3 linked regions of the Homo sapiens genome follow. The protein of the gene in region 3 purifies or fractionates together with the protein of the main gene of each other region. This does not show direct contact. Each region holds a gene or a part of one and is shown on either strand. Other genes may lie near its edges.

Region 1 (3,656 bases), on a different chromosome or scaffold from region 3:
ATTTACCATGCCTTTCAGTTACTACATACATAAGCTGCTTCCTGACTTGGTGGCCTTTACATATTCCGTCTCACTCCTTGGACTGTTCCCCTCACGCCTACCTAAATGTGGCCACCTGGTAGTCAGTTTTCACGTCTCAATTTAAATATCGTTCGTCAGGGGAGCCTTGCCCGCCTTCCCAAAATCAGAATAGGTTTCCGCCATGTATTCACCATACTCTGTACTCCTTTGTGGCATCATCATAATAGAAACTTAATTATTTCTGTATTTATTTGACAAATACTGTCTCCTCACTGGACTATAAGCTCCCTGAGCAGGGCCCTCTCATTTGTCATGTTTTACCCCACTACTTACGCAGTACCTGGCACATTGTAAGGGTTCAGTAAATATTTGCTGAATGAATGAAGGAGTGTATTCATGCACAGTGCTTCCAGCACTTCTCTGGGGACAGAAATAGAGAAATGAATAAAGCGGATATGCTTTCTGGATTGAAGTATATAAGAACTTTCAAATGAGCCATAATGCTTAGGCAATTTAGGTTATATGTAAAGGAGTCATTGACAGAATTTTAATATAAATTGTGGAAAAATGTTTGTTCTTTTTGGAGGTCTCTGAAATCAGGATTAATTTTCTAAGTGGAAATGATAAAGGAATCACTTTCATTTGCCGCAGAATTGCTGTGTAACACAGCATTTTAGAGACTTATCACTGTCCTGCTTTTTGCAAGCGATATTCATTATAACAAAATATAGACATGGAAGAAACTTCTAATGGACTCTTCTTCCCTAATGTTGTCTCGTTTTGCCCTAAAAACCTTTATTTCCTCTAGGTAGTAGTATTAATACTGTTTTATAGCTGAAGACATCAAGAAAATAAGTAAATTTACTTATTAAACTAAAAAAAGTTTAATTAAATTGCTAGAGTTTCCAGAACGTTGGTACTGGAACCATGGTTAGAATCTGGATCTATCTCCGTATTCTAGAATCCATAATTTTTTCTTTTTCTTTGCTTTTTTGTTTTGTTTCTTGCTTTTTAACCTTGCTATCTTCCTATGAATTATACCTTTAATATCACTTGATTTAGACAAGGTGGCTTTGTAAAATTGAGTAGTTTTTGTTTCAAAGGAACTTATATTTTGGGTTTCCTGAAAATTTTTCTAATACTTTTCTAATCTTATTTGCTTTATAGCTGGAGACTTAAGCATAAAAAGATTATTTTTAAAACATACAAACTGAATTTTAGGGATAAATTGTGTTAGGTTTTGGTCTTGGAAACAAGTTCTGCAGTCATTTGTAGTACCACGGTATGGCATAGAGTAAGGTCAACAGCCCTGAGTTTCTGTAGCCTTGTATGCCTTCATGGATTTACCAGTTTACTCTTCCACAAGATCTTGTCAAAAAGAGATTGCTGATAATTTGGCTTTAAAATTTGGTAATACTATCCATTTTATTATTAAAAACAAGTCTTTGCTAAATCCTAAACTTACTTTTTAAAAAGTCAGTGTTGATGTTACTTGAATCTTGGATAAAATTTTCATATTTACCTAGCATAACCAGTATGTGGAGGATAAAACTGAAATACTGCTTTTTATATGTTGTTGGATAATTAATATCATTATGATAGGTGTTACTAAGAATTTTAAGCCACTTACATGATAAGTAATTTTTTCCATAATATAAACTGTAAAAGTGATTTAGAAGTTAAATGTCATTGTTATCTATGTTATTGCATTTGAAATATTATAGTAAGCTGCAGTGTTAGAGGGTTATGCTTTAGGGACACACACACACACACAATGCAAAAAATGAAAGCACATTTATTATAGCAATTAGAAATAATTTATGTGCTGAAAGATAAACACTGTGGTTTGATGGTTCATTTTTGTCTGTATGAAGATGGTAATTTCAATTTTGTCATTTAAGCTACAAAATTTAAATGTGTCTTAAGTGTATTATATTACACTTATTTTTCAAGCTCACCCTTACATTTTTGGTTATGTATAACCATTTTTAAAATCACCCAAAAGTGATTTTCTGCTGTTCAGTTTCATTCTTATACAGTTGATAGAATCCAGGTTGCCTATAGGGTTAAAAGAAAAAGAAAAGAATTTTATTAACAAGCTTATGAACTATTGGGTAACAGCAGTGGAACATGTTAAGTGGTAGTCACTAACATATACTTAGGCTGGTCCCTTGGGAATAAGTTTACCAGAGGTTAGTCTAAATAATGACTTTTTGATTCATTTACTTATTGAATGCATATTACTTGTGAAATTGCCTTAAACCTTCTTTGGAATGAACTGGAACCTAATATAATAGCTAGCATTTATTGAGTATTAAGTAACTAAGTGCCAAGTCTCATGCTAATAAGCATTTTACAGGATCTCTTATAATCCTTACGACAACCCTTCGAGGTAGAGGCACTATTATCTCCAGTTTTTAAATGAGGAAACTAAAGTACAGAGAGGTTAAGGAACTTGCCTACGGTTGCAGGAAAAATTGCTTGGAATTAGGATTTGAATCCAGGCTGGCTGACTCAAGAGACCATGTTTTTCATCATTATAGTAAAAATGATGTTAGTGATTGAACTGCATTGGAGAGAGAAATTAGCATTAAGAGTTGTAGTTACAGAGCAGTTATGTCTTAAATGCTAAGGTCAGTGTGGCAGGCAGAAATTACTTAATATTCAAACTTTTTAAAAAACCTATTAGGAAATACACGTTGTAGACTAACAACTTCAACACAGCCAGTTTTTTTCTAGCATTGGAGTAGATTTCTTTTGAGTACCAGGTGAAGTGTTTGACTTGTTATGCAGAGACCATATTGAAAAAAGAAATATGTATATTATAATACAAGAGTCACAATCAGTGTGGCAAGCTACTCTTTGTGAGAGCTCACTGTGGCTCTCAGTCTGGTGTGGGGAGTGGCAGATCCACGTTTCTTATCTGTCTCATTCTGGGACTTTTGCATAGGGAATGGAATTATCACATACTGCAGTAGTTATTTTTAGTGAAGTTATTTTTTTGTTTGTTTTCTTCAAACAAATGTTCACCATGTCTGTTGAACTTGCATAGGGTAGGAGTATCATGTGAAGCAGGTACGCTCCCTGGAGTGTTAATGCCAAGTGGCAGTGTGACATGTCACTGTATTTCTTTACTGTCTCTCTTCCCTGCCAAGACTACATACCTTCAAGGGTATGTGCTGTTTGACTTTTCATCACCATATCTCCAACTAACACTGTTGCTGACTTAGACTGACTATGCAGAATACTGTGTTGGATACTAGGAAATAGAGAAATGGATACAACTTCTCTTTAGGGAGTTTATACTTCAGTAGATACAAGGGGAAAGGGTTGAAAGACCATTGTATGGACATTTAGTCTTTCTAATATACTAAGTACTTCCATGTGCATCAGTTCATTTTACAATTTTAGGTTAGAGCTGATAGAAAAATAAATGATTGTTTCTCTAACTGCCATCTGGTCCCTGGCACTGAAATGGGTCTCCCTGTCTTATTCAGTCATTCTCTCTTACTTCAAGATAGACTGGAATTCAACTGAGATTGAAGTTATGGAATGACAAAACCCTAAGATGTTACACACCGGCTGCCTCCTCAGACTTATATAAGGTTACTACAACAGAAGCCAGTTGGGAATGT
Region 2 (3,656 bases), on a different chromosome or scaffold from region 3:
GTGTAGTGGCGCAATCTCAGCTCACTGCAACCTCCGCCTCCCAGGTTCAAGCAATTCTCCTGCCTCAGGCTCCAGAGTAGCTGGGATTACAGGCACCCGCCACCACCCCCGGCTAGTTTTTTGTACTTTTAGTAGAGATGGGGCTTCACCATGTTCTCCAGGCTGGTCTCGAACTCCTGACCTCAGGTGATCTGCCTACCTCAGCGTCCCAAAGTGCTGGGATTACAGGCATAAGCCATCACGCCCAGCCTATTTTTTCAAACAATCTGACTGAGGCATTCATTCTCCTCCTTTTGTTTTGATTCTGTACCATCCCCTTACTCAGAACGCAGACGCCTATGATTTTTAAGTCCAAAACCTGAACATATGCATTCCTAAATGTGGAATTTTGTTTTAACATTCAGATAGAGAAAATAACTGGGGGAAAAAAAACTTTCAAGAGGACTGTCTTACCCATTTCAACATGCCCCAACATAAAATTGAAATTACCTTAAGAGCTACAAGCAGTGTAACTGTTTCAACTGAATAATATCCTCTGTCAACATAATCTCCCATAAACAAGTAATTTGTATCTGGTGATTTGCCACCAATTCTAAACAGTTCCATGAGATCATGAAATTGCCCATGCACATCTCCACAGACAGTAACTGGACATCGAACCTCTTGCACGTTGGATTCTTTTGTCAGGATTTCTTTAGCCTACAGATGGGAGACAAAAATAAGGCAATACATTTGGCATTAAACAATATTAACAAAGATTTGTTTACTTACACTTAATGTAGCTTAAGGGGCAGACTCAGTCTAAGATAAAATTGCAGGCATTTATGAACCCATTAAAATAAGTGAGATATGATTATAATCCATTAGCTATCTCACCCTGTTACCTAGGGAAAAAATATGCATTCCTATCATCAATACCAGGAGTTTTTTAAAAACCTATCAAATAGCCATCTAATTAAATACTAATTGTTAGCTGTCACATAAAACCAATGAAAATCGAACAGGACATTCAGGTATCTACTTCCTTACCTTCAGAGTTCTAACTACAATGCAGCACTCAAAGATTCTTTTTTTTTCTTTTTTTGAGACAGGGTCTCATTTTGTCACCCAGGCTGGAGTGCAGTAGTATGATCATAGCTCACTGTAGCCTGGATCTTCTTGGCTCAGGAATCTTCCCACCTCAGTAGTGGGGACCACAGGCACACGCCACCATGGCTGGCTAATTTTCACAAACTTTTTTGTAGAGACGGGGTCTCACGTGATCCTCCACCCTCATCCTCCCAAGGGCTGGGATTACATGCATAAGCCACCTCACCTCAGCCCTGTTTGACTTTTTAAAAACATGTTTTTGGCCAAGCACTGTGGCTCATACCTGTGAGAAAATCATTTGCTCAACCATCTGTACCAGCCCCATGCTAGCAACTGGACATATAGTGGTGAACAAGATGGCTCATTCCCACTACCGTAGAGGGGAGAAGGACCACAAACAAGTAACCAAGCCAAAAGTACACTGTGTTAAGTGTCACAAAGGAAAGGGAGAGGGAAACTGGGAGAGACCACTTTACATAAGATACCAAAACAAATTACCAGAGAATTGTTGCTAATGAGCCATGACAACCACAGATGACAAGGACTGGGTTCAAAGCATTGGTATGCAATCTTAGCTGCACATTAAAAATCCCAATGCCCAGCCAGGCGCGGTGGCTCGCACCTGTAATCCCAGCACTTTGGGAGGCCAAGGCGGGCCGATCACTTGAGGTCAGGAGTTTGAGGCCAGCCTGGCCATCATGGCGAAACCCCATCTCCACTAAAAATAAAAAAAACTAGCTAGGCATGGTGGTGCATGACTGTAGTACCAGCTACTTGGGAGGCTGAGGCAGGAGAATTGCTTAAACTTGGGAGGTGGAGGTTGCCGTGAGCCAAGATCGCATCACTGCACTCCAGCCTGGGTGACAGACCAAGACTCTGTCTCAAAACAAAAACAAAAACACCAATGCCCATTCCTTCCCCTAATAAAGTCAGAATTTTGGAGACTGGAATCAAGCCATCAATAATTTTTAAGCACCCCCACCCCTCCTTTTCCCAGTGTGCAACCAAGTTTAAGAACCACTGCACTTTGGGACGCTAAGGCGGGTGGATGGCTTGACCCCAGGAGTTCCAGACCAGCCTGGAGTACAGTGGCATGATCTCGGCTCACTATAACCTCCACCTCCCAGGTTCAAACGATCCTCCTGCCTCAGTCTCCATGAACAATTGCGACCACAGGTGTGCACCACTATGCCTATTTTGCACTTTTTGTAGAGGTGAGGTTTCACCATGTTGTCCAGGCTGGCCTCAAACTCCTGAGCTTAAATGATTTGCCCACCTCTGCCTCCCAAAGTGCTGAATTACAGGCGTTAGCCACTATACTGGCCTGAGATACCTATTAAGAAATATGTACAACCCATTATTATCAAATCCTACTTCATTCTGAAATTTTTCTCTGCAGGGTAATTCCAACTTCCCATTTACTATCACTAAAAAACACAAATTCACTAGGCTTATTCCATTACCAAGTCTGTCTGGCATTAATACCACATCTAGTGTTTTTTTAACACCTATCATATATTAATGAAAATAACTAAATGAAATAAGTCCTACACTGAGAAGAAACTTGCAAAAGTTATTCAGAAGTTTTAAAAGGGCATGACATAAGCAAACAGATGGTTATATACCATGTAAATCTTGCCATGATGTAATTTTCACATTTAAAGCTATCAGAAGTTAAATGTTAATATACTTCTGTGAATATCTGTTTATCTGCAAAGCTATTCTCTGTATTAATAATAAAAAGTTGACTTTCAGGACTGCCTGAAGTTCCTTACTACAACTGACTCAAATTTTCTATTCAAATCATGAAGGAAAATTAAGTCTAAATGCTATTTGTTGCTTTTATTTCAATTTAGGCAAATCACACCGATAAACAGTGTTATCTATTTTTTAAACTATACAAATTAGTAATACATTCTTGTAAAAAATTTCGGCACAGATAAAATGAAATGTTCCCTTTGAGCACCCTACACAATCCCACCCCCTTTGGGCAAAGTTACCAATAAAATTTTGATGTACAGATGCTCCTCAATTTGTAACACAGCTGCATCCAGATAATCCTATCGTAAATATAATCGAGTCAACAGTGTGTTTTCAGCTTACAATGTTTTCAAGTTATGATATATTTATCTGGATGTAGTCCCATCATAAACTGAGGGGTATATTGAATAGCTATCATTTTCACACCATCATTAAGTCGAAAAATTGGGGAGTGTCTGTATATCCTTTAAAACTTTGTTTACAAAGTTTACACACATACTGTATGTCTACAGAAACAATAGTTTTCCTTTGCATTTTTAAACTAGAAACAATATTGTTCAGCAGCCTGCTTTTCTAACAATATATAATAATACATAACATTTATTGAGACAGCTGGTTATTTTCTCATAGTGGAGGCAGAGTATTCCCCTGACCAATTACAATGGCAGAGGGGTGTGAAACTACAGCAATATATATCCTCGTATTTTCTCCTCTGTATACATATGCAGGCACATTTCCTGAGAGAAGATACTATGAAGTGAACTTAACTAGTGTATCTAGTAGTTTGGTTTTTAAATGTTGACATT
Region 3 (3,656 bases):
AACAACGATTCACAAAGCTGGAAGGAGCCTCAGCAATAATCTAATTCAGCACTCTCATTCTACAGATGAGTACTGAGGCCAGAGTTGTTAATGTGAATACAGTTAAATAGAACTAGGTCTAGCACACGTTTTTTTTTTTTTGAGACGGAGTCTCACTTTGTCACCCAGGCTGGAGTGCAATGGCGCGATCTCGGCTCACTGCAACCTCCGCCTCCCAGGTTCAAGCAATTCTCCTGCCTCAGCCTCCTAAGTAGCTGGGATTACAGGTGCCCACCACCACGCCCAGCTAATTTTTCTATTTTTAGTAGAGACAGGGTTTCACCATGTTGGTCAGGCTGGTCTCGAACCCCTGACCTCGTGATCCACCTGCCTCGGCCTCCCAAAGTGCTGGGATTACAGGCGTGAGCCACTGCGCCCGGCCGCATACATGTCTTTTTAAGATCCAGTTTAATTCGCTTTCTGGGACAACATAATAGGTATCAGGTTTTTGTTTTGTTTAGTTCTAAGACTCATGCAACTCTGCTATATCTCTCTGTGAGTGTGAATGTGTGAATGTGTAAGTGTGTGTGTGTACACATCTCTTTCTCTGTCTCTCATATATGATGTCAGCAAGATTTATATGTATATTGAAGAAAAGAAGGAAGTAGCCTTATGCCCATAAACAAACATTCAGATATCTCTTCCCTCAAATGAGAACATTAGTGCAAAGCTATTAAAAACAGGTCTGGGCTGGGTGCAGCGGCTCACGCATGTAATCCCAGCACTTTGGAATGCCGAGGCAGGCAGATCACCTGAGATAAAGAGTTCAAGACCAGCCTGGCCAACATGGTGAAACCCCATCTCTACTAAAAATACAAAAATTAGCCGGGCATGGTGGCGCACACCTGTGATCCCAGCTTCTCAGGTGGCTGAGGAAAGAGAATCGCTTGAACCCAGGAGGTGGAGGTTGCAGTGAGCTGAGATTGCACCACTGCACTACAGCCTGGGAGACAGAGCAAGACTCTATCTCAAAACAAGAACAAAAGGTCTGTCTACCTGGATATCTGTTTACACCATCTCAGGTATTCTCATCTGAGACAAGGCCAAACTAGAACTACATTAGTTAAGCTACTGGAATGGATGTTAATGAAAATGAATAACAACTTTTATATTAATAAATTTTTTATCATTGAACATTTTAAAAAAGATATGTCTTTTAACATCAGAATATTATTACCAGGAAACTGAAACATTACATTTTTTTTGTTTGTTTTTTTTGAGATGGAGTTTTGCTCTTGTTGCCCAGCCTGGAGTGCAATGGCGCAACCTCGGCTCACCGCAACCTCGGCCTCACCGCAACCTCCGCCTCCTGGTTCAAGAGATTCCCCTGCCTCAGACTCCCAAGTAGCTGGGATTACAGGCTTGTGCCACCATGCCTGGCTAATTTTGTATTTTTAGTAGAGACGGGGTTCCTCCATTTTGGTCAAGCTGGTCTGGCACTCCTGACCTCAAGTGACCCGCCCACCTCGGCCTCCCAAAGTGCTGGAATTACAGGCGTGAGCCACTGCACCCGGCTGAATCATTTCTATATAATTTGTTAGATGGCTTTATTTCATTTAAATGAAATTGTAACATGATTTCAATCAAATATGTATCTGACCGTCTCTATTGTCTATCTGTCCATCAGTCCCCTAAATTTTTGCTTTTCTGAAATAATGCCACCATAACTTGTAAAATACCACAAGGGAACAATAACATGTAGATTGATTATTTTCAGTAAGATGATTCATGGGCCACAATTCTAGAGGCAGCCTGGAATGCAAACCCTTCAAATGCTAATGTAGGATGATGACGTCATTGATTCCACTAAGATTCCACACTGGGGAGAAACTCCAGAGTATGGTATGAAGGATTAACCATCAAACAGTTAAGGAATCTGTGTTTTAGCGATGCCCATAACCTGACTTTATCTGAACTGCAAAAAAAACTTCAAATAATCCTCTAGCAGAAATAAAACTCGTGATGTTGTTTTGTCTTCTAAGACAGATAACTGACTTAAAAAAAATTTAACAATTGAGTATCAGTTGAATATTTCCAACAACAAGCCTGGCAATTGTTGTTCTATGGTTCTTCAGGGACAGTAATTCTGCTGGGAGACAGTATGTTATAGTGGAAAGCACATGGATTTTGGAATCTGACAGAGCTGAGTTTGCATCCTGGCTCTGCCACTTGCTCTTTCATCCATTTAACCTTTGAACTTCAGTTTTTTAGCTATAAAATGGACATAACAATACATACTGTAACAGGAGGCTGCATGGTTTAAATGAGTTAGTGACTGGTCAGCTTCTCATTTCTCATCCTTAAAGAGCATACTTTTTGGTTTCATCTGCAAGGATAATGAAGTTTTCCTTTTCCAATGGGTCATCATTGTCTATCATTCACGTGTCTAATTTACAAACCAAAACAAGTTTACTTCTGACTTCTGGCAGGTTGATCTGCACCAAAAAGAAAGAGATGGCCTGGCCAGTTCCTGGGAAAGTCAGTTTAGAGACATGTTCAAGCCAATTGTATCTGCACAATACTTGGGAAAAGAAAAGGCCAGCCTTCTGCTTAGATTAGTTTTTTGTGCCTTTAGCATACAGGTAAACGCATACCTTTGCTTCCACTGAATTTTAACAGGTTTTAATCAAGTCACAACTTTAACTTGTGATGACTGAGAAATGGGTTTCCTGAAAATATCACAGCTATTTTTTTACATTAAATTAAATGCATAATGGATATGTATCTACATTCGTAATTCAAGAGCAGTTATCACATTCTATTACATCAATTCATCTGTTTACATATCTGTCTTCTGTCTCACAAGACTCTGAACTCATCTGAACAACTACTCTGTCTATTCAACTTGATCACACTTAGCACTAGCAGTGTCTGGTTCAGATACTGAAAAAATGCTGGTTGGAAAGAAATGTACAGCACTTTCAATCTCAGCCAACACAACTGGACTTTACCTTTTAGAAAATGGGAAGCCACTCAACATTTTTAACCTGGTGAAAATCATAACAAAAGCATAGTTTTAGGAAAGTTAATGCTTACAGTACAGGGCTGACTTGACTGAAGAGAAAATGGAAACAGAAAGAGTAGTCGGGAAAAAAATTTAACAGCATAGGTATGAGGCAAAAATGTATGAACTAGGATGGTAGCAATAAGAATGGAAGAGACTGACAAAAGAGACATTAAAAAGAATTTACTTAGTTATTTAAGAATTTACTTACAGTAAATGACGGATTTTCATTTAGGGAGGTAAGAGGGGAAATAATCCCAGATCAGCTGAGGTTTTGAGACTGGGTGACTAGAATGATGATACCATTAGCAAAAACAGGGATGTTAGAAATGGAACTGGGTTTACTGGGGAAATGATGACTGTGATACGAGACAGGCTGAATGAGAAGTTATTTGACCCCCAAGAGGAACGTGTTAAGAGTCTGTTAGTGTGGTGATGGCTAAGGGTTTAGAAGTGAAGAAGTCTTTGGGGATAGAGCCTTTTAAGGAAATTTATTCTGTGCCCTCAATTTAAGGACAAGAGGCAACAAGATGAAACTGATATATAGGGCTAGACCAGATCATTGTTATACCCTCAAACATTAAGTCAGTTAAGAACTAGATTGGTTCTGTTG

The links.
Region 1: the proteins of CTTNBP2NL (region 3) and PDCD10 purify together in Homo sapiens (affinity purification with mass spectrometry; 3 studies listed by BioGRID and IntAct, with this or other methods). This does not show direct contact.
Region 2: the proteins of CTTNBP2NL (region 3) and PPP2CA purify together in Homo sapiens (affinity purification with mass spectrometry; 4 studies listed by BioGRID and IntAct, with this or other methods). This does not show direct contact.

What each region holds. Positions count from the first base shown.
Region 1 is NC_000003.12:167,728,350-167,732,005, reverse strand, and holds part of PDCD10 (programmed cell death protein 10), read left to right. Parts: intron 1-3,656. UniProt on the Homo sapiens protein: Promotes cell proliferation. Modulates apoptotic pathways. Increases mitogen-activated protein kinase activity and STK26 activity. Important for cell migration, and for normal structure and assembly of the Golgi complex.
Region 2 is NC_000005.10:134,205,433-134,209,088, forward strand, and holds part of PPP2CA (serine/threonine-protein phosphatase 2A catalytic subunit alpha isoform), read right to left. Parts: intron 700-3,656; coding exon 490-699; intron 1-489. UniProt on the Homo sapiens protein: Catalytic subunit of protein phosphatase 2A (PP2A), a serine/threonine phosphatase involved in the regulation of a wide variety of enzymes, signal transduction pathways, and cellular events.
Region 3 is NC_000001.11:112,402,669-112,406,324, reverse strand, and holds part of CTTNBP2NL (CTTNBP2 N-terminal-like protein), read right to left. Parts: intron 1-3,656. UniProt on the Homo sapiens protein: Regulates lamellipodial actin dynamics in a CTTN-dependent manner. Associates with core striatin-interacting phosphatase and kinase (STRIPAK) complex to form CTTNBP2NL-STRIPAK complexes.